Linked DNA regions of Homo sapiens. The protein of the gene in region 2 purifies or fractionates together with the protein of the main gene of each other region. This does not show direct contact. Each region holds a gene or a part of one and is shown on either strand. Other genes may lie near its edges. The genes, in order: PDPR, RAB40C, USP22, DTX3L, UBR5, TRIM56 and RNF7.

Evidence for each region.
Region 1: the proteins of RAB40C (region 2) and PDPR purify together in Homo sapiens (affinity purification with mass spectrometry; one large-scale study listed by BioGRID and IntAct). This does not show direct contact.
Region 3: the proteins of RAB40C (region 2) and USP22 purify together in Homo sapiens (affinity purification with mass spectrometry; one large-scale study listed by BioGRID and IntAct). This does not show direct contact.
Region 4: the proteins of RAB40C (region 2) and DTX3L purify together in Homo sapiens (affinity purification with mass spectrometry, with the first as the bait; one large-scale study listed by BioGRID). This does not show direct contact.
Region 5: the proteins of RAB40C (region 2) and UBR5 purify together in Homo sapiens (affinity purification with mass spectrometry, with the first as the bait; one large-scale study listed by BioGRID). This does not show direct contact.
Region 6: the proteins of RAB40C (region 2) and TRIM56 purify together in Homo sapiens (affinity purification with mass spectrometry, with the first as the bait; one large-scale study listed by BioGRID). This does not show direct contact.
Region 7: the proteins of RAB40C (region 2) and RNF7 purify together in Homo sapiens (co-immunoprecipitation; 4 studies listed by BioGRID and IntAct, with this or other methods). This does not show direct contact.

Annotation. Positions count from the first base shown.
Region 1 is NC_000016.10:70,141,353-70,145,528, reverse strand, and holds part of PDPR (pyruvate dehydrogenase phosphatase regulatory subunit, mitochondrial isoform 1 precursor), read right to left. Parts: intron 3,296-4,176; coding exon 3,140-3,295; intron 3,059-3,139; coding exon of another isoform or gene 3,054-3,058; exon of another isoform or gene 2,977-3,053; coding exon 2,843-2,976; intron 2,020-2,842; coding exon 1,871-2,019; intron 1,109-1,870; coding exon 996-1,108; intron 1-995. UniProt on the Homo sapiens protein: Decreases the sensitivity of PDP1 to magnesium ions, and this inhibition is reversed by the polyamine spermine.
Region 2 is NC_000016.10:613,598-617,773, reverse strand, and holds part of RAB40C (ras-related protein Rab-40C), read right to left. Parts: exon of another isoform or gene 1,510-4,176; intron 567-1,509; coding exon 506-566; intron 1-505. UniProt on the Homo sapiens protein: RAB40C small GTPase acts as substrate-recognition component of the ECS(RAB40C) E3 ubiquitin ligase complex which mediates the ubiquitination and subsequent proteasomal degradation of target proteins.
Region 3 is NC_000017.11:21,011,642-21,015,817, forward strand, and holds part of USP22 (ubiquitin carboxyl-terminal hydrolase 22), read right to left. Parts: coding exon 4,111-4,176; intron 1,295-4,110; coding exon 1,189-1,294; intron 1-1,188. UniProt on the Homo sapiens protein: Deubiquitinase that plays a role in several cellular processes including transcriptional regulation, cell cycle progression or innate immunity.
Region 4 is NC_000003.12:122,567,020-122,571,195, forward strand, and holds part of DTX3L (E3 ubiquitin-protein ligase DTX3L), read left to right. Parts: intron 1-1,469; coding exon 1,470-3,005; intron 3,006-3,435; coding exon 3,436-3,653; intron 3,654-4,176.
Region 5 is NC_000008.11:102,290,189-102,294,364, forward strand, and holds part of UBR5 (E3 ubiquitin-protein ligase UBR5), read right to left. Parts: intron 3,928-4,176; coding exon 3,767-3,927; intron 3,657-3,766; coding exon 3,417-3,656; intron 1-3,416. UniProt on the Homo sapiens protein: E3 ubiquitin-protein ligase involved in different protein quality control pathways in the cytoplasm and nucleus. Mainly acts as a ubiquitin chain elongator that extends pre-ubiquitinated substrates.
Region 6 is NC_000007.14:101,094,949-101,098,611, reverse strand, and holds the end of TRIM56 (E3 ubiquitin-protein ligase TRIM56), read right to left. Parts: 3' UTR 645-3,663; downstream 1-644.
Region 7 is NC_000003.12:141,740,969-141,745,025, forward strand, and holds part of RNF7 (RING-box protein 2), read left to right. Parts: intron 1-1,675; exon of another isoform or gene 1,676-1,939; intron 1,940-2,540; coding exon 2,541-2,588; exon of another isoform or gene 2,589-2,589; intron 2,590-4,057. UniProt on the Homo sapiens protein: Catalytic component of multiple cullin-5-RING E3 ubiquitin-protein ligase complexes (ECS complexes), which mediate the ubiquitination and subsequent proteasomal degradation of target proteins.

The DNA.
Region 1 (4,176 bases), about 70 Mb from region 2:
GTTAGGTGGGAAGGTGGGAGGGGTTAAGCCGAGACTGCTGAGAGTGAGAAAATCAGGGAACCAAGTCATCCTTAAAAATTAGGTACTCTCTGGGACTGGGCGTGGTGGCTCATGCCTGTAATCCCAGCACTTTGGGAGGCCGAAGCAGGTGGATCACGAGGTCAAGAGTTCAAGACCAGCCTGGCCAACATGGTGAAACCCCATCTCTACTAAAAATACAGAAATTAGCCCGGCGTGGTGGCGGGCGCCTATAATCCCAGCTACTTGGGAGGCTGAGGCAGAAGAATCGCTTGAACCCGGGAGGTGGAGGTGCAATGGCATGATCTTGGCTCACTGCAACCTCTGCCTCCCAGATTCAAGCGATTCTCCTGCTTCAGCCTCATGAGTAGCTGGGACTACAGGCATGCACCACCATGTCCAGCTAATTTTTGTATTTTTAGTAGAGATGGGGTTTCACCATGTTGGCCAGGCTGGTCTCAAATTCCTGACCTCATGATCCGCCCGCCTCAGCCTCCCAAAGTGCTGGGATTACAGGTGTAAGCCACTGTGTCCAGCCCTCAATTTTCTTTTTTTTTTTGAGATGGAGTCTCACTCGCCTAGGCTGGAGTGCAGTGGTGCAATCTGGGGCTCACTGCAACCTCTGCCTCCTGGGTTCAAGTGATTCTCCTGCCTCAGCCTCCCAAGTAGCTGGGATTACAGGTGTGTGCCACCACGCCCAGCTAATTTTTGTATTTCTAGTAGAGACGGGGTTTCACCATATAGTCCAGGTTGGTCTCGAACTCCTGACCTAGTGATCCTCCAACCTCGGCCTCCAAAAGTGCTGGGATTACAGGTGTCAGCCACCGCATCCCCTAGAGATCAATTTTCTATGACCAGAGAGCCTCTTTTATGCTAACTCTAATGTTCATTTTTGAGAGTCAAATGTAAAGAAGGCAAACGTGGACACATCTGCATCTGCTGGCCTTTTCGACGTGGCAGAGCCCGAACCCCCGTACCTGTGTACTTCCAGGTGACGTCCTCCAGGAGCAGGTTGCTGTCTTTCGGCATGTGTTTCTTAAGCCAGGCCCAACAGTGGACCTGCTGGTCGGTTGGAGAGATCATGAAGAAACTGAAAAGTGAGACCCCAAAATAATCAAAACCAGGTAGCAGCAAAAGGATCAGGAAGCAATCAAATCTTATTTGGTTTCAAAGCAATGAGGCAAATACTAGGAAATGATTTCTTAGCTTTCACAGAAGGCCAGTAGCACCATTCTAGGATACACCACCTAACAACAAAACAAAATTCTGGCTTCCTGTTAATGCCAAGAAATTATACAGATTTACTAACGTTAAGACATCGGCTGGGCACAGTGGCTCACACCTGTAATCCCAGCACTTTGGAGGCCAAGGTGGGCAGATTGCTTGAGCTCAGGTGTTCAAGATCAGCCTGGGCAATGTGGCAAAACCCTATCTCTACAAAATATACAAAAACTGGCTGGGTGTGGTGGCGTGTACCTGTGGTCCCAGCTACCTGGAAAGCTGAGGTGGGAGGATCACTTGAGCCCAGGAGGTCCAGGCTGCAGGGATCCATGATCGCATCACTGCACTCCAGCCTGGGTAACAAAGTGAGACCCTGTCTCAAAAAAAAAAAAAAGAAAAAAGACAAGGCATCTTCTCCCAGTAGGGTACATAATCTGGTGGGCTTTTTTTTCTTTTCCTCCTGGTGATTTCTTTTGTTTAGGACTGCTAATAAACTGGCTTTGATTTCATGTAATGATTCTTAGACTCTGGGATTTATGGTTCCCGGAGAAGCGCCTGAGAGCCTCTGCTACAGCACCCCTAAGGAATCAACATGTTGGAGGGAGCAGAGCGGGACGGCAGCTCATCTCACCTGCGCTTGTTCAGTCGTGCTATGCTGCAGTCATTTTCATACCCTCCACCCTCGTTGAGCATGCCAGTATGCACAATGTGGCCCACAGGCACATCCAGGTCATTGGAGAAGAGGTACTGTAGAACTTCTAATGCCTGATCCCCAGTGGACTGCAGGGTTAGGGAATGAAACAGAGAGAGTGAGCGTGAGAGCACCTGGCTGGGCCACATGGCCCCACCAGCAATGAACCTCATTGAGAAAATTCAATCAGCCAATTCCCATGTGACAACATTTGCAGACCTACTCCACTGCAAGAAGCTCCAGGGAACGCTAGCTATTGATTCTTATGATAAACAGGCCTCTCTAGCAAATTAAAAACCTGAAACAAGGAGCTAAAATTTCAGAAAAATGTTACAATACAGATGAAACACTAAAATATACCAGAATTCTTAAGAAATCAGTGTTTTGTTTTTGTTTTTTGTTTTTTTTTTTGAGATGGAGTCTCACTCTGTTGCCCAGGCTGAGTGCAGTGGCGCAATCTCAGCTCACTGCAACCTCCACCTCATGAGTTCACGCGATTCTCCTGCCTCCCGAGTAGCTGGGATTACAAGTGCCCGCCACCATGCCTGGTTAATTTTTTGTATTTTTGGTAGAGACGGTTTCGCCATGTTGGCCAGGCTGGTCTTGAACTCCTGATCTCAGGTGATCCACCCGTCTCGGCCTCCCAAACTGCTGGGATTACAGGCATGAGCCACCACTCCTGGCCTTAATTTTTGTATTTTTAGTAGAAACGGGGTTTCACCATCTTGGCCAGGCTGGTCTGGAACTCTGACCTCAGGTGATCCACGCCCCCTTGGCCTCCCAAAGTGCTGGGAATACAGGCATGACCCACTGCACCCAGTCAGGAATCAGTTTTGAAGATGAAAAACAAAAGGCATTCAATAAATATGTAAAGTTTCCTAATCTATTACTTTTTGGTTCCCAAATACTTACTGTTATCTCAAACTTTGTGAAAGAGGACATGTCAATGACACACACAGCTTCCTTACAGCACTTGACTTCAGACTCCACGATGTCAAACCAATCTGGCTTATAGAAAGTCTTGCTCTGCTCCAATGCCAGGAGGTCTACGGAATGGAAAAATCACAAGGCCCTGTAGAGTTTAGTGTAGTCCACGTGGTTCTTTTTCTTCTGTGAACACATTCTAGCCTATGCATTTGAAAATATGTTTTATTAATTCCCAGGACAAAAAAAAAAAAAAGAAGCAAAAATGAGAATGTGACTTCTTACCCTTGTCGGGGGGAACAAAGTACTTTGGCCTCTCAAATCCATGTTTCTCCATCCACCTGGCTCCCTGTGCATCCAGCCGGTCGTAGAGAGGAGAGGTGCGTAACTGCCTACCGGTCTGGAAGTCCCAGCGGGGAACCTTCAGATCATACATCAAAGCTAGAAAAGACACGAGTAGTCTATCAAAGCCCAAGACACAGATTCTAGACCTGAGTAGCCCATGTCCACTAGACTCTGGAGTTGTTTCTATTCAAAAGAGCTTTCCAGGCTAACGTAGTTTTTTTTTTTTTTTAAGACGGAGTTTTGCTCTTGTTGTCCAGGCTGGAGTGCAGTGGCACAATCTCGGCTTACTGCAACCTCTGCCTCCTGGGTTTAAGCGATTCTCCTGCCTCAGCCTCCCGAGTAGCTGGGATTACAGGCACGTGTCACCGTGCCACACTAATTTTTGTATTTTTAGTAGAGACAGGGTTTCTCCATGTTGGTCAGGCTGGTCTCAAACTCCTGACCTCAGGTGATCTGCCCGCCCCAGCCTCCCGAAGTGCTGGGATTACAGGCGTGAGCCACTCTGCCCGGCCCAATTTCCAGGCTAATGTAGTCTAATTTTCAAAATTACCCAGTGTATCAGGCATGCTCCAGAAGGAAAAGACAATCCTGCCAAGCTGCTATCGTCCCTCCCTGGAGCTACGTGTCACGGCATGACTCGGCCTGTATTCACATTCAGCATTCCACATTAGTAGGTAGAAATGATGGCAGAAAGGTCAGGGTCCTAAACCTTACCAAGCTTCATAGCAGAGAAGAAGGTTACTAAGTGGGACACAGGTGGTAACAAAATGTGAAAAAATGGCATTCGATTCTTCATTGTGCCTGTGTTAGGATCTCAGACCTGTTACAGACATTTCCTCCCTGATAATTAACTCACTTCTGAAGTGAAAGGGTACATATTGCAGCTTGATTAGGTGGCTCTGAAATCTGAGAAGTTATATTGTATTGTACCAATGACATTATTCACACAACAAAGCTAGGGTCAGAATTCATTTCTC
Region 2 (4,176 bases):
CCTCCCGGGTTCAAGTGATTCTACTGCCTCAGCCTCCTGAGTGGCTGGGACTACAGGCGCCCGCCACCACACCTGGCTAATTTTTGTATTTTTAGTAGAGATGGCGTTTCACCATGTTGGCCAGGCTTGTCTTGGACTCCTGACCTCAGGTGATCCTCCTGCCTCGGCCTCCCAAAGTGCTGGGATGACAGGCGTGAGCCACCACACCCCGCTGGGAAATGCTTTTTAAGGTGAAGCCGACAGAAGGGGAGGGAAGGGGCTCACAGCCACCACGGAATCAGGTTTTCCGGGGCAGGAGGGGAGCCGCGATCTCTAGGGACACAGTGTCCCAGACTGTCTTTTTCCTGTTGGAGTAAAATCCATTCTATGTTTAAACAGGGGCTGTGTAAGTGGCTCTTCCAAGTGAAATGCAAACAGGACGCCTTCCTGTTTCTCTAAGGGTTCTGTTCTCCCTTCGGCATTTGTGTCCTCACCCAGGAACTGAAGTGCCGCAGCCCCAACTCACCAGAGCTCCAGCTTCACGCGCCGGCCGTCCAGCAGGATGGTGGTGGTCTTGTAGTCGATCCCTGCGAGGAAGCACAGGGCGCTGAGGGGACGCGCCACTCCTGGAGCGAGCGCCCGCGAGACCAGCCTCGGCCACTGGCCTCCCAGGGCCAAGACCCACGCGGAAGTGGAGAAGCAGCTCCCCCACACTCAGCCAGTGGGGCAGGGGGAAATCTCGGGGCTCTGGCCCAGCAACCCAGGCCTGCCCACTTCTGCACACGGGCCACGGGCAGGGCGGGGCAGGGCAGGGCAGGAGCGTGGTCCATACAGTGTCAGGCCATCGGGCCCCACAGCCTAGCAGGCCAGCCTCTCCATGGGCACGGCTTGCCTGGAATGGGGCCTCCGCCTGTGGCCCGCGCTGGGTGCAAGGCACAGGGCCTCTCCCTCAGAGGGCATTGGGCAAAGGCAGGGCGTGGACTCCAGCGTGCCTGGAGAAAGGGCAGTGCCTTTATTTCCACCCTGACCTACTTCGTATGCATTTTGAAGTTGAATTCTCCAAGGCGAATGTATTTCCAAGTCTCGGCTTACTGCAGCCCAGGAACTGCCAAGGTTGGTGTTAGGGAGGGCCAAACAAGTTTAAAAATGCTGCTTCTGGCCGGGCGCGGTGGCTCACGCCTGTAATCCCAGCACTTTGGGAGGCCGAGGCGGGCGGATCATGAGGTCGGGAGTTTGAGAGCAGCCTGACCAACACAGTGAAACCCCGTCTCTACTAAAAATACAAAAAATTAGCCAGGTGTGGTGGTGGGCACCTTTAATCCCAGCTACTCGGGAGGCTGAGGCAGGAGAATCACTTGAAGCTGGGAGGTGGAGGTTGCAGTGAGCCGAGATCATGTCACTGCACTCCTGCCTGGGTGACAGTACTCAATAAATAAATAAATAAATAAATAAATAAATAAAATGCTGCTTCTCCGGACTCTGGACTGACCTCAGACAGCCACCAGCCTGCCTGCCACATTGGTATTTTTTTTTTTTTTTGAGACAGAGTCTTGCTCAGTCACCCAGGCTGGAGTGCAGTGGTGCGATCTCTGCTCACTGCAAGCTCCGTCTCCCGGGTTCACGCCATTATCTAGCCTCAGCCTGCTGAGTAGCTGAACTACAGGCGCCCGCCACCATGCCCGGATAATTTTTTGTATTTTTAGTAGAGGTGGGGTTTCACCGTGTTAGCCAGGATGGTCTCGATCTCCTGACCTCATGATCCACCCGCCTCAGCCTCCCAAAGTGCTAGGATTACAGGCGTGAGCCACTGCACCCGGCCTTTTTTTCTTTTTTGAGATGGAGTCTCACTCTGTCGCCCAGGCTGCAGTGCAGTGCCACAATCTCGGGTCACTACAACCTCCACCTCCCGGGTTCAAGCGATTCTCCTGCCTCAGCCTCCCAAGTAGCTGGGATTACAGGTGCCCACCACCACAGCCGGCTAATTTTTATAATTTTAGTAGAGACGGGGTTTTGCCACGTTGGCTAAGCTGGTCACAAATTCCTGACCTCAGGTGATTCGCCCGCCTTGGCCTCCCAAAGTGCTGGGATTACAGGTGTGAGCCACCGTGCCCGGCCCACATCACATCATTACTTTTTATTTCCTTACAGTTTTATAGGAAAAGGTCAGTCCAAGAGAAACTGAAAGGAGCAGACAGTTCTGGACACTTAACGCAGGCACGACATCTTAAACAGGCTCTGGGCCCTCTGGAAACTTTCCAGAAGCTTCTACCTTTAGGGCTCAGCCCCTTCCCCCACCTTAGAAACACCATTCACGTTTTGTCTTTTTATGACACTTTCTCCAAGGGGCTTGGAAACGGGCACTTTTTAAACATAAGCGACGCCCTCCCACGGAGTGCACCTGCCCAGTGGGCTTGTGTGTGTGTCTGTGCACATCTGTCTCTCCGTGCGGGCCCAGCCCTGCAAGCCAGCCATGCGGTCTCTCTGCCTACGGTGCCCTTCTTCAGGCATCAGCGCTTCCACCCACACCGTCCTTCTGCCTGACCAACCCCTACATGTACATCAAAGGCTGTTCTCATGCATCGAAGGACACCATCAATGGACAGAAAAATGCAACCCAGAGATGGAGGGAAATGTCTGCAGATCACACGTCTCCTAGAGACTGATCTCTAGACTCTACAAATAACTCCAACTCAACAACAGAAAACCAAACGTCCCAATTTTAGGATGGACGGATGGTCTCCCTCGGGTCCTCGTTTCCAAGACAAGAAGGAACAATGGTTGTGCCAAAAGGGCCACGGCTGTGAGCAGCCCATGACTGCAGGAGCTGCACCCAATGTGTACCCAGGGACAACGCCATTAAGCAGTTCATCAGGATGCGGTAGAGTTAGGCAGTTCACTATCGGGACGAGGTAAAGTTTGGCAGTTCACCATCGGGATGCGGCTGAGTTAGCAGTTCACCACTGGGACGAGGTAGAGTTTGGCAGTTCACCGTCGGGACGAGGTAGAGTTTGGCAGTTCACCGTCGGGATGCGGCAGAGTTAGCAGTTCACCATCAGGATGTGGTAGAGTTAGGCAGTTCACCATTGGGACGAGGTAGAGTTAGGCAGTTCACCATCGGGACGAGGTAAAGTTTGGCAGTTCACCATCGGGATACGGCAGAGTTAGCAGTTCACCATCGGGATGTGGTAGAGTTAGGCAGTTCACCATCGGGATGCGGTAGAGTTAGGCAGTTCACCATCGGGACGAGGTTTAGGCAGTTCACCATCGGGACGAGGTAAAGTTTGGCAGTTCACCATCGGGATGCGGCAGAGTTAGCAGTTCACCATCGGGATGTGGTAGAGTTAGGCAGTTCACCATCGGGATGCGGTAGAGTTAGGCAGTTCACCATCGGGACGAGGTTTAGGCAGTTCACCATCGGGACGAGGTAAAGTTTGGCAGTTCACCATCGGGATGCGGCAGAGTTAGCAGTTCACCATCGGGATGTGGCAGAGTTAGCAGTTCACCATCGGGATGTGGTAGAGTTAGGCAGTTCACCATCGGGACGAGGTAGAGTTAGGCAGTTCACCATCGGGATGCGGCAGAGTTAGCAGTTCACCATAGGGATGCGGTAGAGTTCGGCAGTTCACCATCGGGATGCGGTAGTTAGCAGTTCACCATCGGGATGCGGTAGAGTTTGGCAGTTCACCATCGGGATGCGGTAGAGTTCGGCAGTTCACCATCGGGATACGGCAGAGTTAGCAGTTCACCATCGGGACGCGGTAGAGTTAGGCAGTTCACCATCTGGATGCAGTAGAGGCCGCAGCCTTGCAGACATTTTGGAAGCATCTGCGCCGACTGTGTGCTTCCCGAGCTGCGTGTGAAGCTGCGTCACTGCCCCAGTGGTGCCCTTCACAGCAAGCCAGTCAGGAATCCTGCTCCTCAAGTCCAGGGCTATGCACGTCACCCAAGTCTAGACCTGGGTGCTGCCCACGACCCCCACCAAGGCCCCAAGACCATGCATTCCACCTGGGTCTAGACCTGGGTGTTGCCCACGACTCCCACTAAGACCCACATAAGGAGCTGAGTCCTTAAGGACTAAAGACAAACTATCCTCTGGGGAAAAAAATACGGAAATTATACTTTAAAAAAAGGGCAAAGGACTTGAATAGACATTTCCCCAAAGAAGAAAAACCGACGACCAAGAAGCAGTGAAAAGGC
Region 3 (4,176 bases), on a different chromosome or scaffold from region 2:
CTATCTCAGCTGCATCTAGAACTTGGGGCCTGTGACCCTAGGCAACACTGGAGACCCCTGCACATTTCACAGAGCGTGCCCAGGCCAGGCCCGGTGGCCTGCACTGGACAGTCAATGCTGCATTTCACAAGGCCAGTTCCTTGCTAGAAATTTATTTAACAATATAAAAAATGAAAACTTGCAGACTGGGAAATTTACTCTCGATATTTATACAGGATTTAAATCTTGAGACAATCTCCTACTAATGGAATTCAGTAGTTAAGGGACAGCGAGGAGGTCCAAATTGCTCAGAGCAAACTCGGTTTCTAATACTCAGAGACAAGGCCCCAAACGGTCTATGCTCCTTATAGAAAATGGCCCCCGTGACACAGGCAGCACTGGCCTTTCCCGATATTTGCTCGTCTTATGCAGTTTAGAAGTGACAGTCCATTTCGGGTTCTGAAATAATTTCGGTGGATCATGTCCAGGGTTTTTAAACTTCAACTGAAGTAAAGAACAGAGCCAGGCACGGTGGCCCATGCCTGTAGTCCCAGCTACTTGGGAGGCTAAGGAGGGAGGATCGCTTGAGCCCATGGGTTCAAGGCCAGCCTGGGCAACATACACAAGACCCCATGCCTGAAAAAAACAAAAACAAAAACAAAAAACCTGTAGCATGCACTGAGGTTGGGTGAGAGGGTCCCCTGACCTAACAAAGCAATGGATTCTCCCTGCACTCAACACTTGAGGCTCTAAGCAGAGACCACATCTGAGAAGAATTAGGGCCACTACATCAGAAAATGGAACCAGAAACCATAAAATAATGAAAACTAACACACTTCGAAGCACGTAGAAAAACAATCCACCATGCATGATCCACGCCTTCTTGAAGAGGGCTCTTTCACTTGGTCCCTGGTCAAGGACTGTAAGATGCAAAATGGTAGGGGAAGCTTCCAAGAACACACTGCTGGCTGTAGACAACAGCCAAGACCTCAACACGAAGGGCTCGCATCCCGAGGGGACACCTGCCCTACGACCTCCCCAAGAGGAAGCACCCCCACCCCACAACCTTCGCTCTCATGGCGTCTATTAATCATTTATCTCATAGCCTCCTTAAAGACCTCTCAGAGCACACACAGCTCTGGAGACTGGGAGGATGTCAGTACGGCCCCAGAGGGTTTGATATTGCCGAGCACGCAGCCTCTCACTTACTGGCAGACTTGGCAGGTGACGTCTGACTGCAACCCGCCTGTGAAGATCTGGTCTATGATGCAGTTGCAGTGGTTGGGGTTGTTGGCCTTCTTCCCATTGTCATCACCTGGAGACAGACCACGGCTCTGGGATTAGTGTCTCCCCAAATATGGGGAGTCTCTAAGGGAAGAGCAGTTCACCCTGCAGAAGCCTGGGGGAGCCAGGGCCAACGCTTTAAAAGGCCATGTGAGGACACTCCTCATTTTAGCAGAGGGTGTCCTTGTTATTTTAATATGACGAGAAATCACAGCACTTGGATTTTCAATGCTCCTTTTTCTCATTCCCTAACAAGAGCCCCACAGCTTCAGTCTTGCCAAGAAAACCCACCTAATGCCCAGTGACTGAGCAGAATAATCGATTCCCATTATCATATAAAGAATGACTGAATCAATATTGTTCCAGTGAGACAGCTGAACATATGGTGGGCCAGGTACACCCGGGGAAGCCCCAGCAACCTCCCTCCCTGAGTAGGTATCATGGTGCCCCAAGTTCAGAAAGTGACACCGCAGGACACAGGCTGTCCTCATCAGCTAGAGCCCCCAGGGGACAGCGTGTCTTCCAGTCAGTTGCATCTGGAAGTGCCACTCCCACCCTCTCTATTCAATACACACTTCATTCATATCCATGTGTGCAGATCTGTGAAAAAGAAACTTAAGTAGCAGAACTTAATTCGTGTGTGGAATACATATTCTACATAACTTCACTAGACAGTGGGGACAGGGCACGAGGACACCTGTATATACATCACAGTTCAAAGACGTTGAATCATGACAGAGGAATAGAGAAGGGCCACTAAGTCTTCTGAGAGCAGAAGGTTTAAGATTAGAGAGAAAAATGCTTCCCAGAGGGATCTCAAATTCATGGGACAAAATTCAGAGGACAAGAATATCCATACAGGAAGGCGCAAAGAATGATGAACAGAATGGCCAGGCGCGGTGGCTCACGCCTGTAATCCCAGCACTTTGGGAGGCCAAGGCGGGCGGATCACGAGGTTAGGAGACCGAGACCATCCTGGCTAACACGGTGAAACCCCGTCTCTACTAAAAATACAAAAAATTAGCTGGGCATGGTGGCGGGCGCCTGTAGTCCCAGCTACTCAGGAGGCTGAGGCAGAAGAATCACTTGAACCTGGGAGGCGGAGGTTGCAGTGAGCTGAGATCGCACCACTGCACTCCAGCCTGGCGACAGAGCGAGACTCTGACTCAAAAACAAAACAAAACAAAACAAAAGATGAACAGAAAGATGCCGTGAAGGCCACAAGGACAAAATGCACGTAACCAAGGCCATGTGGCCAGGCCACCTCGCTGAACAGCTCTGGCAACCAGGTTTCTAAACAGAAGAACCTTACATTTCTTTTCAGACATTTCCAAGGGAATTCTGTCAGAAGCACGTCAGAGGTCACATTTTGTCATGTGAACATTTAACAGCAATGCATTTTTGAACAAGTGATTTTTAGAACATCTTTCTGCTGCTTACAGAAGGCTCTTCGTTATTCTCACTAGGTGCTTGGGGTAACAGCATAGTCACTTCCACAGTGGCTCTTTCCTCTCTTATAAATCATACTAGGACATGAAATTCTACCTAAGCTACTAAGTAACTTTCCTTTGATTTCTAGGTAAGAATTAAAAGGATCACGTAGTTTTTCAGAGGAAAAAAAGTAAGTACCAAAAGAAAACAGAACCCAAAGTCACATTTGACCAAAACCAGCCATTTTAGCTCAACTGTGGGTTGTTTCTGGGCTGTGATCTCAGAACCCATAGGTTGTACGTAAGCGCCTAGGGCCCGGGTGCACAGCCTTGAGACGGATGAGAAGCGATGGGAAGGCCAGCCCACCAAGCTGTTCAACTCGGTGAACCGTCAGAACAGGACTCTGTTCTCTAAAAGACTCCAAGTTAAAATTAACTGATAGGATATCGGCTACAACTAGCTGTGCCAGCCCAGAGACCACAGGAAACTCACAAGCAGCCAGGTGCCCTGTGACCTGAGCGCATGGGTTCTCAGAGTATGGCATCTGAACCAGCGGCATCAACATCAGCTGGGAACTGATTAAGAGTGAAGAAGCCCCTGCCCCCCACAGATCTGCTGAATCAGAAACGCCAGCACGGGCTTTAGGAAGACCTGCAAGTGACCAGCCCACACTCATCTGAGAATCACCTCTCAGTCTCTCTGCCTGTATGGATAGACTTCAGCTGCAGGTCCCTCACACTGGGATCTCCACCATGAGGAGTGGGGAGGAGCCGATCTTGGCTCAAGTCATTCATTCCCAGCCTCCCACCTCCAGCGCTAAGAGCTGCCCCTGCCAACTACCAACACCACACAACTCTGAAAAATCATCAGGGTACCACCCTGGGGCCAGGCTGTGGGACTATGTTGGGGGAGATGGCCCAGGTCCAATGAGACCCCAAGAGAAGCTTTGCTCGTCCTGTGTCCCAGCTCTCTGGCTATTTCAGAGCAACCATCAGTCCTTTTGGAGAGTCCCCAATGGGAAGGAGACAGTTGGGTGATTAAGTTGTGTTTGGGGGATGTCCAGAAGCCTCAGGCCTGATAACCCACAGGGTCCCAGAAATGCCAGGGCAGGCAGGGGCCTCAAAGCACAGGCCCAAGAGGGCTCCAAGAGTTTGCTGTTCACTGTGATCGGTCACTGAGGACCTGTCATACTGCTGGAACTACTTCCTCGCCTCTTAAAAATAAACTAGGAGGAGCCTCTCTGAGGTCATTAGTTATGGTGACTTCAGAAACAAATGACGACAAGGGCTATGATGACAAAACAATGGAATGTGTCACCTGTGCCCCTTTTTGCACGAGTGCATACACTCGCTTTGCTTCCTTCCCCTTCAAGGAAAACATCCTGCCCTGGTGGAGGGTGCAGAGCCCAGGGCCCACCTTTGCAGTGTCGGTGGAGCACGTCCAGGGCCGCGATGAGGAACTCGTGGGCGTCCTGCTGCTCGT
Region 4 (4,176 bases), on a different chromosome or scaffold from region 2:
TGGGCGGAAAGTGTCCTAGAGGGAAGCATAGGTGCAAAGTCCCCAAGAGCTGACATTTTGAGGCCCAGAAGCTTTAAGGAAGCCAGTGTGGTGGGGAGGGCAGTGAGCAATGGAGAGAGGTGCTAGGAACTCGGGAAGGTACCCAGAAGACAGGCCTTTGGGGCTGAAGGTAAGGATTTTGGATTTTTAACTTAAAATGTTAGGGGATTCATCAGATAGTTTTGAGCCAGGGGAGAGGGCGATCTGGTTTATATTTCTAAAGGGTCACTCTGGCTGCTGTTGGAAAACTGAACGTAGAAAGGGGATAGAATGGAGAGTTAGAGCCTGGTTAGGAGGGGTTGCAGTGCGCCAGGTGAAAGATGATAATGGCATGCACTTTGGTGGCCTTGATGGAGGTGTGAGAAATGGCTGGATTCAGGAAACATTTTGAAGATCTAGAGGAAGGATCTTAACATGCAAAGTCCTTGAGAAGGAACAAAACATTAGGAATTTTGCTTTTATATTACAGTCAATTGGTCTCTGTCCTTTTTATCTTAACCTGGCGTGTCTTATATTTGAGCTTCTAAAGGCCAGGGTTTAGAAGGGTCCACAACTTTGCATGCAGTCGAGTGTTTAGTTGAAACAAGAATAAAGGAGGAAGAGTGAAGAAGAGAAAAAATAGTAATAGGAAAAGCCATTGCCCTCAGTTTTATGGCTCCCTTCCAAGTTCACAAACTTTTGTGAGGGCCACAACAACTTGCCCAGAGAGCACAGGTGCCTTCCCTTGACTGCTGTTCCCAAGATCAAACAGCTAGTGGCAGTTGTAGAACACGGATCTCTTGGCCATGGAGCTTTTAGAAATGCTCATGCCCAGGCTCCACTGCAGATTAGTTAACATCAGAATCTCTGGGGATGTGCTTGGGCTTTGGCTGGTTTGTTTTTCCCTGAATTCGCCAGGTGAGTCTTATATGCAGACAGGGCTGAGAACCTCTGGGATGTAGCGTGCTGTATCCTCTAAAAAGGATTTGAGACCAGGCACGGTGGCACATGTCTGTAATCCCAGCACTTTGGGAGGCTGAGGTGGGTGGATCACCTGAGGTCAGGAGTTCCAGGCTAGCCTGACCAACATGGAGAAACCTCGTCTCTACTAAAGATACAAAATTAGCCGGGCGTGGTGGCACATGCCTATAATCCCAGCTACTCAGGAGGCTGAGGCAGGAGAATTGCTTGAACCCGGGAGGCGGAGGTTGCAGTGAGCTGAGATCGCGCCATTGCACTCCAGCCTGGGTAACAAGAGTGAAACTCCATCTTGAAATAAATAAATAAATAAATAAATAAATAAATAAATAAATAGGATTTGAAAGAAGTTGCCCCCACTTGGGAAAGATGTAGTGGTTGTTTCTCTAGTCTCTATGCATTCTCCTGAAGAGAAGATGGTAGGCCTGCATGCTGAGAGGTTTTATTTGTTCCTGTTCCTTTTAAAATTTCAGATCTTTCTTACTGTAACAGCTGACCTGAACTGTAACCTGTTCTCCAAAGAGCAGAGGGCATACATAACCACACTGTGCCCTAGTATCAGAAAAATGGAAGGTCACGATGGAATTGAGAAGGTGTGTGGTGACTTCCAAGACATTGAAAGAATACATCAATTTTTGAGTGAGCAGTTCCTGGAAAGTGAGCAGAAACAACAATTTTCCCCTTCAATGACAGAGAGGAAGCCACTCAGTCAGCAGGAGAGGGACAGCTGCATTTCTCCTTCTGAACCAGAAACCAAGGCAGAACAAAAAAGCAACTATTTTGAAGTTCCCTTGCCTTACTTTGAATACTTTAAATATATCTGTCCTGATAAAATCAACTCAATAGAGAAAAGATTTGGTGTAAACATTGAAATCCAGGAGAGTTCTCCAAATATGGTCTGTTTAGATTTCACCTCAAGTCGATCAGGTGACCTGGAAGCAGCTCGTGAGTCTTTTGCTAGTGAATTTCAGAAGAACACAGAACCTCTGAAGCAAGAATGTGTCTCTTTAGCAGACAGTAAGCAGGCAAATAAATTCAAACAGGAATTGAATCACCAGTTTACAAAGCTCCTTATAAAGGAGAAAGGAGGCGAATTAACTCTCCTTGGGACCCAAGATGACATTTCAGCTGCCAAACAAAAAATCTCTGAAGCTTTTGTCAAGATACCTGTGAAACTATTTGCTGCCAATTACATGATGAATGTAATTGAGGTTGATAGTGCCCACTATAAACTTTTAGAAACTGAATTACTACAGGAGATATCAGAGATCGAAAAAAGGTATGACATTTGCAGCAAGGTTTCTGAGAAAGGTCAGAAAACCTGCATTCTGTTTGAATCCAAGGACAGGCAGGTAGATCTATCTGTGCATGCTTATGCAAGTTTCATCGATGCCTTTCAACATGCCTCATGTCAGTTGATGAGAGAAGTTCTTTTACTGAAGTCTTTGGGCAAGGAGAGAAAGCACTTACATCAGACCAAGTTTGCTGATGACTTTAGAAAAAGACATCCAAATGTACACTTTGTGCTAAATCAAGAGTCAATGACTTTGACTGGTTTGCCAAATCACCTTGCAAAGGCGAAGCAGTATGTTCTAAAAGGAGGAGGAATGTCTTCATTGGCTGGAAAGAAATTGAAAGAGGGTCATGAAACACCGATGGACATTGATAGCGATGATTCCAAAGCAGCTTCTCCGCCACTCAAGGGCTCTGTGAGTTCTGAGGCCTCAGAACTGGACAAGAAGGAAAAGGGCATCTGTGTCATCTGTATGGACACCATTAGTAACAAAAAAGTGCTACCAAAGTGCAAGCATGAATTCTGCGCCCCTTGTATCAACAAAGCCATGTCATATAAGCCAATCTGTCCCACATGCCAGACTTCCTATGGTATTCAGAAAGGAAATCAGCCAGAGGGAAGCATGGTTTTCACTGTTTCAAGAGACTCACTTCCAGGTTATGAGTCCTTTGGCACCATTGTGATTACTTATTCTATGAAAGCAGGCATACAAACAGTAAGTATTTCTCAAGTCCATGGGTTTCTTGCCACTATGCTACGATTACCAGGGCAAAAGAGACTGTCCTGTTGCCTATTAGACAATAGATTTCCCAAGGAATTATCTCCAGGGTCATGTGCAAGGGACTGAAATAGTGGTAAAGGTCACAATGTTTGCTGGTAATTCAAATACCTTTTGTGTCTATTTCTTAAGACAGAGAAAGGGTGGGTGGAGATTATATCTTGAGATGGGGGTATCAGGAAGGTGGACAGTGTTTCCAGCATGAATTCAAGGAAAGAGGAGAAATATGAGTTATTGGGAATATGAGCATAACTTCAATACCTTTCTTGCTTTTGATTTGCTTTATCTACAAATGAACACATCTATACCTATAGTAAAAATTAGACAGGGCACTCTTTTCACATGACATTTTCTTGTTCTCACACAGGAAGAACACCCAAACCCAGGAAAGAGATACCCTGGAATACAGCGAACTGCATACTTGCCTGATAATAAGGAAGGAAGGAAGGTTTTGAAACTGCTTTATAGGGCCTTTGACCAAAAGCTGATTTTTACAGTGGGGTACTCTCGCGTATTAGGAGTCTCAGATGTCATCACTTGGAATGATATTCACCACAAAACATCCCGGTTTGGAGGACCAGAAATGTGAGATCCTTTTGGGATGTAATGGCTGCTCAACAGAGTATAGGGATTATGAAATACGGCAATTTCTGGATGTGGATATAAGTAGACTCTATAGCAGTGGAATTGGTGTTTTGAGAGCTGCTGATCGGGGATGGTAATCTCAAAGACAGAAAGATTGGTCCCCATCAACTTCTACCCTGCCAGCTATAAAGTACTATGGAGTTATTTAAATTTTGCACCAAAGGACAGGGGGCTTTTGAATCCGAGATGAATACTATATAAGCTGATTTAATTTGAGGCGTTGTGTCTATCTGAAGGCTAGATGCTCGGAATGTCACTTTGCTTCCTTTTAAGGTCACCTTTCTTTTTCACCCCTTCCCCCACCAGTCCACAGAGAACCTGAAATCACTTGGCCAATAATATTCTAGAAAAAGTCTAAGTTGTGAGGAGACTATTGGTAGAAACTGTATTATACGAAATCCAATTGTTCTTTATGAAACCCAAATAGGATTCCTCAGACCCTTGGCACTAAAGAAAAAATATA
Region 5 (4,176 bases), on a different chromosome or scaffold from region 2:
GGTGGCTAAATAACCCTGTCACCTATTATTTATAGATTATGAAACGGGGTAAAAGATGTTGAAGTCAAAAGACCTTTAAGTGATTGCACTGACAGGTTCTTTCCTATCTCAGTTGCTATGAGAAATGAGAATCAAACCAATTAGACCTGAGAGTTGACTGAAACACCATGCCTTCAAACAAACAGATAAGTAGTCTCAATATGATGTTTAACACTAGAACTATAAGTAACTGGTAAAACAGAGATCGTGGATTACAAAAGTGGGAAAGGCTAAGAGAAAATCTGTAGAGATGAAAAAGGGTATTTCCAACCACTAAAGAGATTTCAATATTAAAACATAAAAGCACTGTGTGAAGCCACAACTAATGAGTATTTCTTTTTTAAAACAAACATCCTAGAACAAACATCCACAAGAACTATAGGCCCCTCAAAGTGGTTACTTTAAGAAGTTATGCAGTTAGTATGTATAATACTGCCAAAACAGACTAGGTATAGTGGCTAATGCCTGTAATCCCAATGTTTTGGGAGGCTGAGGTGGGAGGATTGCTTGAGGACAGGAATTTAAGACCGACCTGGGCAACACAGCGAGACCCAAACGCTACAAAAAATTTAAAAAGAGTAATTTAAAAATACCAATACATAAAACGTATTACAGTTGAACATCCCTTACCTGAAATGCTTGGGACCAGAAGTGTTTTGATCTTGGGTTTTTTTTTTTTTTTTTAAATTTTGGAGTATCTGCATTATATATATTTATCAGTTGAGCATCCTCAATCCCAAAATCCAAAATGCTCCAATGAGCATTTCCTCTGAGCATCATGTTGGTGCTCAGAAAGTTTCCGGTTTTGCAGCATTTCAGATTTCTCATTTTCAGATTAGGAATACTCAACCTGTGTAACTCCCCAGTTAGTGTGACTTCAACTTTTTTCCCAACAGACTTGCTGGCACAATGAAGCACAACAGTCCTGAAGCCTAGTCTAAAAAGCCCCGTTAATACACTACTAAGTTTTGGGGACTTCTAGTTCCAGCAATTTGGCAGACTGTGCAGAGAAACCACTCTTGTTAAGGAACACATATATATGCTAGATATTAAAAAAAAAAAAAAAAAAAAGGACAGCTGTGCAGGTGATAAAGAGAAACGACTGTACTGTATAAAGCTTGGAGAGACAAGTGCCACCATTTATCCCAAAGGGACCCACTGATGTCTCTTGGGCTAGAAGGGCTTCAAGGAACCACAGATTTCACATGAGAGTCTGGAGGCTAAGCAAAGAATAGAAAGTCATCACAGGAATCTCCTCTTCTGTCCCCCTCACATATATAAAGCTAAACATAAATCTTAAAAGGGCAACACCATGAAGGAGTGAAACAGAAAAATCATACCTCGAGAGATTTACCTATCTCAGCCATGAATAGATGCAGAATGGAAAAAGGTCTCTTTTGAGAACTTCTAACTACAAGTCTGCATTTTGGAGAGTTTTGGACTGCACTCTACACTATAAAGCCTGGTTCAGTGTTGGTTAACTGTGTGGTGGCTCAACACTATGAGCAAGCACCAAGTAGTCTTCCTCTCTACTCTGCCATCTACTATTCAGGAGAATACAAAAAAAAAAGGAAGTATCTGTCAAGGTAAGTCCAGCGTCTAAACTTTAATTAGCTGTGTTACACTGGAGAAGTTGCCTAACTTTTCTGAGCCGTAGTTTCCCCATTTGACAAACTAGAATGATAGTGGTTATCTATGACATATTGGGAAAATTAAAACAGGTAATCTGTCTACAATACTTAGGAAAGTTCCTAGTACATACTAAAATTTCAGTAACTGTTAGTTACTGTTATATGAGAGACATGGAAATAAAGTAGAAACAGATTATTTATTAAGAACATAACAAGAACATTTTCAAGAGGTGGAAAGAAGCAACAGAAAAAGCTACTCTTAAGACTTCACACTCAATGGGGTGATATACACCTTCTATAATCCAAGACAAGTGAAATCCCAGAGAATGGTCAAGGTCTGTGTTTTTCAACTTAAGACATCCTTGGAACACTAGTCAAAATACACCCTTTATGGGTAAGAATGTACTGTACTATAATAAAGAACTTTTAACAGTTGAAGAAAACATTAGCACTATTTCTTGATTATCACATGAGATCTCCTTCTGGGAAGATTTAGGAAGTTGTCTCAAGAAACAAGCAAAGGGAATGGAATAAAGAGAGTTTAAGAGTATGTAATACTTTAATAATGAGACTAAGAACAAGATGACACAAAATCTTGAAACTTAGTAGGAACAGTTTCAAGGGCAGTGTTTAGAGATGAGACGATCCCAAAATCTGTTCAACAGCCATCAATTTTTTATGTTCCAGAACAAGATCAAGGGAAGTATACTAAGAATTCACAAAGTAATACCACTTAAGTAACTAATGAGTTCCTCACAGGGTATCAAGATCAGGAAAATCATACAGAGTCCAAGCAGATCTCACAAGCAGAATTATTTAATCATGGGATAGATTTGACAAGTCTGAAGATACACAGCTTGATTTGTAACAGTTTTCAACAAGTCCTGGATGTATATCAGTATCAAGGATACTATGGGAGAGCTCTGTCAGACAAAACTGGATTTAGATTAAAGGGACACCTGACATTAAAGGAAAAATTGGGACACATATACTGGCATATAGGAGAATAGTGAGAGCAGATACTCAACACCAACCCAGATCAAATCCAAGCGTAACAACTTGGGAACTATCCCAAACACTAAAGCAGGCCATCCTTATTAACAGAGATGTTTTCCAGAAAAGGAGGAAAAGGGTCTTTAGATCCTAAAGGTCCTTATTAAAACATCATCACACATGCACATGGTTATAAAATCAGACTTGAAAAAACAAAATACACTAAATATTTGCCAAAGATCTACAGCATTATTACTGAAAAGTCTGACCCCTAAACCAGCAGAATTGGCATCACCTGAGAACTTGAAAGGCATACGAAGTTGGAGGCCCCACCTCAAGACCTCTAGAGTGGGCATCTATATTTTAATAAGAGCCCCAAGTCATTTTCATACATATTAAAGTTTGAGAAGCAGTGTGCTAAAGGACATCGGAAAGTTTTAAGTTGCTCAACATCCTGATTCAACAAGCTTACAGTGTAATTAGGGAAACTATCAAACAAATAGAAAAGATAAATGAAACTTAAGAACAAATAATCTTATAATTAGAAACATTTATAATGGAGTTATTTTAGCCCTGTCCTTGATAATACAGTTGTTGTAGAAAAATATTTAAAATTCCGGCTTTCTGGTTGTTATTTATGTTACACAAATGATCATGTACACCACCTGAGTGCTTATGCAAAGGTTTTAGGAAGTCAAACACGACATTTCCAGAGAAGGATTAATCAGAATCTGTTACCTGGTAGCAATTTACCTGCTAGACTGATCAGATGATGGTCGTGGTGGTAGTGGTTCCACTGAAAATAATTCTTCACTGCCCTGCATGGCATCTATGCTAGTACTAGCCAGGGTAAATGGTGCAGTTGGACGAGCAATCCCCATTCTGACAGGAACAATCAGTGACTCTGCTACGTTGCACAATTCTTCCACAGCGTAAGGTAGCAATGCTTGGAATACACGCTTGCATTTTCCAATTGGCTGTGGAATAAAGTTGCTAGAACAAAAAGAGAAATATCAGCAATCTATCTTTTCATATACATAAATCACTATCACAAAAACAGAGTGAAAATGGTATCTAAACCAAAATCAAAAAGGATGCCTTACTTTTTCTTTTTGGATGAAGCCATTTCCACACTCAGAATAACAAAAACTCTTGCCACTGAACGTAGAAACCTCATTGTCACAGCAATAGCTTCTTCTCTACGTCCAGGTGTATATTTGTTTTGGAGTTCTTTCACTAGTGTACCTAGTAGAGTATCTAAAAGCTTTAAAAAATTATATTCACTCTATTAATGTTAAGATACTTCATAAGATGTTTAGACATTCATAAAGTTATAAGTTCTAACATTTTTTAAGTATTAACATTTTATAATAAAATCTCAAAACAAATTTAACCAAAACATTTACAAGGTCAGTTTATGAAATATACCTGCCAATGTGCTTGACATACAGTGAGTCCTAAATGTACGATTTCTTATTTTTTGTCCCACAGTCCTTGGTATATCAACTAATAT
Region 6 (3,663 bases), on a different chromosome or scaffold from region 2:
GGGAAGGTACCCACAGGTGCTTGTTTGGCTTCCACAAACCCCAAAACAAAGCCCCACGTGGTGGGCACAGCCACCATGACCTGGGTCCCTCATGTACTTCCTGCATATCACACCTGCGTGTGCCCAGGTGGAGCCCTGCATGCGCCAGCATGGGCCAGATCACCTACTGGTTCCCACCCAGAAGGTGCATGCTTCTGCAATGTCCCCAAGGAATCTGTGTGGCCACCCTGGGAGCTACCTACCATTGGGTGGCTTTGATGACCTGATTTCCTTCACTATCTGGGCCTGGTTGTTAAAGGTTCCCTGTATCCAGCCGGGTGCAGTGGCTCACGCCTGTAATCCCAGCACTTTGGGAGGCTGAGGCGGGTGGATCACTTGAGGTCAGGAGTTCTAGACCAGCCTGGTCAACATGGTGAAACCCCGTCTCTACCAAAAGTACAAAAATTAGCCAGGCGTGTTGGCTTGTGCCTATAATCCCAGCTACTCAAGAGGCTGAGGCAGGAGAATTGCTTGAACCTGGGAGGTGGAGGTTGTAGTGAGCCAAGATCGTGCCACTGCACTCCAGCCTGGACGACAAGAGCGAAACTCCGTCTCAAAAAAAAAAAAAAAGGTTCCCCGTATCCATAAACCCTTCTGAGAAAAGGTTCCAATTTTTCAAAAGAACTTTATTAAGAAACAGAGGAAAGATACAAAATTCCCATCTGAGAAAGGTTCCCATTTTTCAAAAGAACTTTATTAAGAAACACAGAAAAGATACAAAATCCATAACCAAAGGAACTGAAGAGTTTACAGCACACTGGGTTTAGCCCATGGCAATGTAGAGAAATGGGCTGGGCTGGCGCTCAGTCACTAGGCACCGACGTCCTGATTCCTCGTCTTTGACCCAGTGTCCCTTGGTTGCTAAGTCAACCAGTTCTAACTTTCTCTGGAGACAAGTCAGGCTGCCCTCCCAAACCTCCTTCCTAATGTCTTTATACACAGGCCCTCTTCCATCTGGTCCCTAAGATTTCTCACCCAGCACCTCAGGTGAGATCTAGTCTGATGTTGCTGTACTTTGTATACTGCTCCAATCACAGGAGTCTGCAGTTTCTAGAAAATCTATTTTTGCTCCTGTCCTGATCCATTTCATAAACTGCATTCACAATCCAGTTGGGTAGTCTAATTTTGCTACCTTTGGTCAAGTTACCTACTTTCCCAAGTCTGCATCTGAACTTGGTCTTTCTCCTGCTAACAACGTATTCCTAGGTACTCTCTCTGGCAGTTCTCTGCCCCAGTTCATCCAAGACCTTCTCCCCAATACAGAAGTCCGCACCCCTTTCCAATCTCCCACTTAATTTATGGGATAGCCCTAGTTCTCTGCTTACCTTTCAAGGAGAGACAATCAGAGACCTTGATCTTGGCACTCGCCTGTTCAACCCTGCCCAGCTCAGGTCAGCAACCTCATCGGTTTCCTTGCAAAACTTTTGACTTCTGCCTTGGACTTTCGCCCCTTAGAATTTTATTTCTGCAGATTTAGAATATGGCATTGCTTTATAGATACCGTAATAATAAGGCTAAAATAGAAGGAGAGCTACTCCCTTTCCAAATGATATTTTCTCTAAACTCTCAAAAGATTGGGCCACTCTTGCCATTTTTCACTTTTTCTAAATGTCTACTCTTATGGGTCCTTAACTAATACGGTCTGATTCTTAGCTGGCTTTTAAGAATGGCATTACATTTCAGCAAGCTGGCCATTGGTCCCTTCTATTCCTGAAGTCACTGTTGTGACTTCAGATAAGGCTTCTTCAAGTAACTGCTGGAAAGCAAAACAAAATGGTCTCCTCTGAAGGAGAAGCTGATTTGCAGAAAGCTCTACTCGGGTGTTCCAGAGCTTTCACTCACAACACATGTACCTAACATCCTCATACACGCTTATGCTGATGGAGGGGTATCAGGTGGGTACAAGTCAGTTGAAACTTTTCCTAACCAACACCTTGTATTTGAGCTTTATGGTGTCCGAAATACTTCTCTACATTTCTCATCCAGTCCTCACAGCAGCTCTGTGAAGTGGGCATGTGGATGTCATTATCCCAATGTTACTGATGTACAAACTGAGGCTCAGAGAGGTTAAGGCACTAGACCAAGATCACACAGCTGTTTAGTGCAGAGCCAACACTCAACCCAGGTCTCTGCTCCCTCATTCTCTTCCCATTTCTTGACACCAAGAATACGAAAGAGGTTTTCTACTTCCCTCTTCCCTACCCAAACAGGATTTTCTTTTCACTGGTCCATCCACGCACAACCTAGTCAGTTCCGAACAGGAAAAGGAACAATTTATCAAGTTAATTGTCACAATCCCAGGTGTGGTGCAGTGGGCTGGGGTAAAACATTTTGCTGTATCTTTCATGATGTTCCTGATTTCTCTCTTTTTTTTTTTTCTTTTTGAGACAGGGTCTCACTCTGTTGCCCAGGCTGGAGTGCAGTGGTACGATCTCAGCTCGCTGCAACCCCTGCCTCCCGGGCTCAAGCGATTCTCCCACCTCAGCCTCCTGAGTAGCTGGGATTACAGGCATGTGCCACCACGCCTGGCTAATTTTTGTATTTTTAGTAGAGATGGGGGTTTCACCATGTTGGCTAGGCTGGTCTCGAACTCCTGACCTCAGGTCATCCACCCGCCTCAGCCTCCCTAAGTGCTGTGATTACAAGCGTGTTCCTGGTCTCTTTGTATCTGCGATATAACTGGGAACTCTGCCTTAGTCCTGAGCAGGGCTTTCTATCAGGTCCCCAGGCCACTCAGTTACGGTGTTGGAGATTTTACCTCCAAATTATGCTCAATGCAACACTTCCCATCCATGCTTCTCATTTTCCAGTGTCCTTTGCTGCTCTCGCCCCCCTCACCTCTTTACGAAGAAAACTTAATATTTCCCTCCATCTTACAATGCCCTGTGGATTCTTACAGCTTCCCGAGAAGCCACTTGGCATCCCCATCTCTAGGGCGCCTGTGGGACTATCTTCTTGCAGCCAGGTGACGTTTCATTTCTGAAGGTTTCTATTGTTTTGCCCCCTGGGTGGGCCACGTGGCTAGAATCATTTCACCAGCCAGGACCACTGCCCATGGCTCCCATGCAACTCCGGAGAGCTGCTGTTTCCACCCCAAGGTGTGCGATCCCCTACAGTACACGGTTCCCAGTTACCCCCTCCACATGCACAGAAGCGGGACACCCCGATCTCATCTCTCCCTCTTTTATCCCCCCCTTAGGAAACCAGGTTTTGCTCTGTCACTCAGGCTGGAGTGCAGTGGCACAATCAGAGCTCACTGCAGCCTTGAACTCCTGGGCTCGAGCAATCTTCTGCCTCAGCCTCCCGAGCAGCTGGGACTACGGGTGCATGCCACCACCTCTGGCTAATTTAAAAATTTTTTTGTAGAGATGGGGTCTTGCTATGTTGCCCAGCCTAGTCTTGAACTCCTGGCCTCAAGACATCCTCCCGCCTTGGCCACGCAAAGTGCTGAGATAACAGGAGTGACCACTGCACCTGGCTCAGTCTCATTTTTTTTTTTTTTTTTTGACGCGGAGCCCAGCCTTGGGAGGCAGATGCGAACCGTGTCCACAGTGCCCCCTACTGGAGATTCCCCACAAGCCGAGGTTTTGGAGGTGGGAAAGCTTTGGAGAGTCATACCAGTCT
Region 7 (4,057 bases), on a different chromosome or scaffold from region 2:
TTCCACTCTCCTCCCTTCATTCAGAAAGGAGTGATGATTACACAGTGAGCAAGTGCTGATGAAAAGGGGAATAGGTTTGCTAGTACAGCCAGTTATAATAGCCAGAGTAACCCTTCATGACTGTATCACCTTGGATATTTCACATAACTTTTTGGAGCCTTATTTTCCTAATTTGTAAAGAGGCAGTTGGGATCACCAACCTTAATATTAAAATTCTGTGATTGCACAGAACTAGCGCCAGATTCAGGTAGGATGTCTTCACTGTTATATCACAACCCTCATGATATTTAGGTGTTTGTCTACGTCCCCATTTGCTCCTGAGCCCCTTGAGACCCAGCCTTGGTCATTTTGGTGTCCCCAGTGCATAACTCCTTGCACAGAGGAGATAGTAATTGTGGGATTGAAGAAAACCTCAGGAGGCAGTGGTTGTTTTTAATCCACACTGAAGAGACTAGGGCAGTGGTGTTTTTTTAAGGGTAAGAGCATGTGGAAAGGAGCAAACAAATGCCTGAGCAGAATCCAGTGTAAGAAGAGAAGCAGGCTTCAACTTAACCGTGTTTCTATTTTTACAGAATTATTTTTCTCCTATTTATGTTAAAAACTATTTTCTGTTGGTTCAAACTTCCTTTTACCCAACTCTGACTCCTCTTCCAGCTAGTGAATGAGTCCATTTTTGCTCCCTAAAATATTCTATATTACTTTTTTCATTAAGCTGATAGTATTCCAGATTGAATTTTGAAAACTTCTAGTACAGCCTTTAGGATCTCATTTTTAGTATTTACACCTACTCCACTATATTAGAAGTTACTATAAGCTCACTGGGCATGCTCATGGGCAGTTTATTTTCAAGGCACCCTTTTAAATAACCCATACATATAATGTTAGTATTTGTTTATATATACATCAAGAAATTCTAGAAGGATACCCAAGAAACCAGTAATAAAGTAATTTATTAAAAGACTTTACCATTGTTGGGTAAATACTTTGGGCTCAGACTTATCTGTATTTTCTTTCTTTCTTTTTTTTTTTAAAAAAACTTTTAGGTTCAGGGCTACAAGTACAGGGTTGTTACATAGATAAACTTGTGTCACAAGGGTTTGTTGCACAGATTATTTCATCACCCAGGTATTGAGCCTAGTACCCATTAGTTATTTTTCCTGATCCTCTCCACCTTCCACCCTCCAAAAGGCCCCAGTGTGTGTTGTTCCCTGCTATGTGGCCATGTGTTCTCATCATTTAGCTCTCAAGCATTTTCTTTTTTTTTTTTTTTTTTTTTGAGACGGAGTCTCGCTCTTTCGCCCAGGCTGGAGTGCAGTGGCGCTATCTCGGCTCACTGCAAGCTCTGCCTCCTGGGTTCACGCCATTCTCCTGCCTCAGCCTCCCGAGTAGCTGGGACTACAGGCGCCCACCACCACGCCCGGCTAATTTTTTGTATTTTTAGTAGAGACGGGGTTTCACCATGTTAGCCAGGATGGTCTCCATCTCCTGACCTCGTGATCCGCCCGCCTCAGCCTCCCAAAGTGCTGGGATTACAGGCGAGCATTTTCTTACAAAGAAAAAACCTTAGTGTTTAGGGATATCTAGTATTTACTTATTTTATCTGTAAAATTCTCACCAGTTTGTATCATCCCCACTTAATATATAAATACCTCACAGTATTGTCCCTTTTTTACAGATGAGGGAATTGGAGTTCGTAATTGGTCCGAGGCCCTGAACCTAATAAATGCCAGTGAAATGGGATTTGACTGTAGATCTGGCTCCACAGCCCTCGCTGTCCCCTCTGTCTCACTGGCTTCTCACCAGCCTTGTCTGGATGACCATCGGTAGCAACCTATTGGAAGCATACAAAGCAGTTTATTTTAGAGGAACTCTCAAGTGTCTTAGGGTAGAAAGTAAAAAGTTGCTTCTTATGAGTTGCTAAAGGAAGGCTTCTGTGTCAGTAAGTATGGATGACTTTAAAAAACTTGTTTATGAAGCAATTTTTTAATTTAATTTTTTATAAGTTATATATTCATATAGTTCAGAAATTGAGGAAGTTATGTATATTACCTGGAAGAGTGAAAACTCTCCTTCCCATTCCAAACCCTCCCAGTAAACTTTATTATTGGTTCCTTGGGTATCCTAGTGTTTCTTGATGTATGTATAAACAAATGCTAACATATATATATGGTTTATTTAAAGGGTGTCTTGAAAATAAACTGTCCATGAGCATGCCCAGTAAGCGTATGGTAACTTTGAATATAGTGGAGTATGGCATATTTTTCTCTAGTAGTTTTCTCTCTTGGCACCGTCAGGACATCTTTTCATCAGAGCTTATAAAAATAGAGGATTTGTTAACCCTTGTGAAATTGCTCCTGGTTATAATTAGTAGAATGCCTTGTACTTTATTCCTCTTTAAGTAGTTATGTTCAGATGAGAAATTAATAGTATGAGTCTTTATTGCCATCCCTAACCCTTAGGGCTTTTGACTTTGAAGTGTCTGGTTTTTAAAAATTGCATTCTGAGCATCAGAATGAGAATCGCTATTTGTTTACTTTTAGATGCCTGTCTTAGATGTCAAGCTGAAAACAAACAAGAGGACTGTGTTGGTATGTTGTAATTTTGTTCTCTTGCTTTTTCAACTGAAGGTTTTCTCTCAGTAGGGATGTTTGAATTTGAAATTAAGATTGACTTTATCAATACACAAAAATAAACTGTAAAGCAGTGATCCATTGTTAATATAAAATATGTTGGTTCTCAAAAGAGTTTAATGGAATGAACCTGCAAGTCCTTTTATTGCCATAATTAAGAAGAATTGGTTATATATTCCAGACATGGTCATAATAAACATTTTGGTAATCAAAAATTAAATATTTTCTATTAAGAAAATTATAAAATCAGAAATTTGTCAAAACATTATTTGAATTTTGGCTATGTTATAGGTCACTTTTGGTTCTAATAAGGCATTTCACTTTTCAATACTCTTATAATACAGTATTTAACTTTAAAACCAGAGTAGAAAAATTCTAAGTCTCAAGTATATTTTTGGAATGTGGTTTGTGTATCAAATTTTCTTTAGAGTCTTAGACTACAAAAGTTGTCGTAGGCTAAATATTTTAGGCAGTTCAAAGATTTTTATGCCCTAGTTCTTGAGGTGATCAAGTCTAGATTGCTATATAAACATGTTTATAGATTTTCTTAGAATAAAAGATTGGCTTTGTATTTTGTGTTTGCATGGTGTACGTAGAACACAAATACATGGTGTACATAGAACTTCTTAATATTGATTCTTGCAGTTTTGATCCAGTTCTTCCTCCTGAAACGCTTAGAATGTTTCACCCTTGCTTCCTACCCCCTGTAGCCAATTTTCATAGGCATTTTTTTCTTTTTTTCTGCCTTATTTCTTTCATTTAATCTTTTTCTCTGCCTTATTTCTTTCATTTAATCTTTTTCTCTTGTCATATAGCTCAGTTGATCAAGCAAGGGACAGATGAATCCCAAATTCGAGATTGCATTCTAGATTGTGGATGATTTCCCTTGTTTTAAAGTTTTTCTTTCATGCTGCTTGTTTAAAAAGTATTAATTTGGGAATTGTGAGGGGCAGGCCACTTTCTTTGATCACAGAGAGACCTCTCTCTCCAGCCAGCCACTTTGAAAATTTCATCGTCACATGAGGAATTGCACTGCTTATGGGTGACTTAACACAATTCATCACTTCTAGAAAACAGCTCAGCTCAGATGCACAACTGAATGTTTAGAAGCATGTTATTTATAATAGCCTACTGCATACTAAAAACATTTACAACTCATTCTGTCTTGGTAAATAAAAATTGGAAGGACATTTTCCCATAAAATAAAGCCCAGAAGATCTCTAAGGTCAGTGCATGACTGAGAAGGTCAGATCTAAGGAAGGTTCAAGAACATTCATCTAACTTCAAGAAGACAGCATGTGGAGCTGTGTAGGAACTAGGGGTCATCACATCACCCATAGATTCTAGAACAGTGATGGAAAGGCTCTCAAACAGTGACTTATGTCTCTGTGTAACTTACACATTTAAGTTTCTGTTTCTTTATAGAT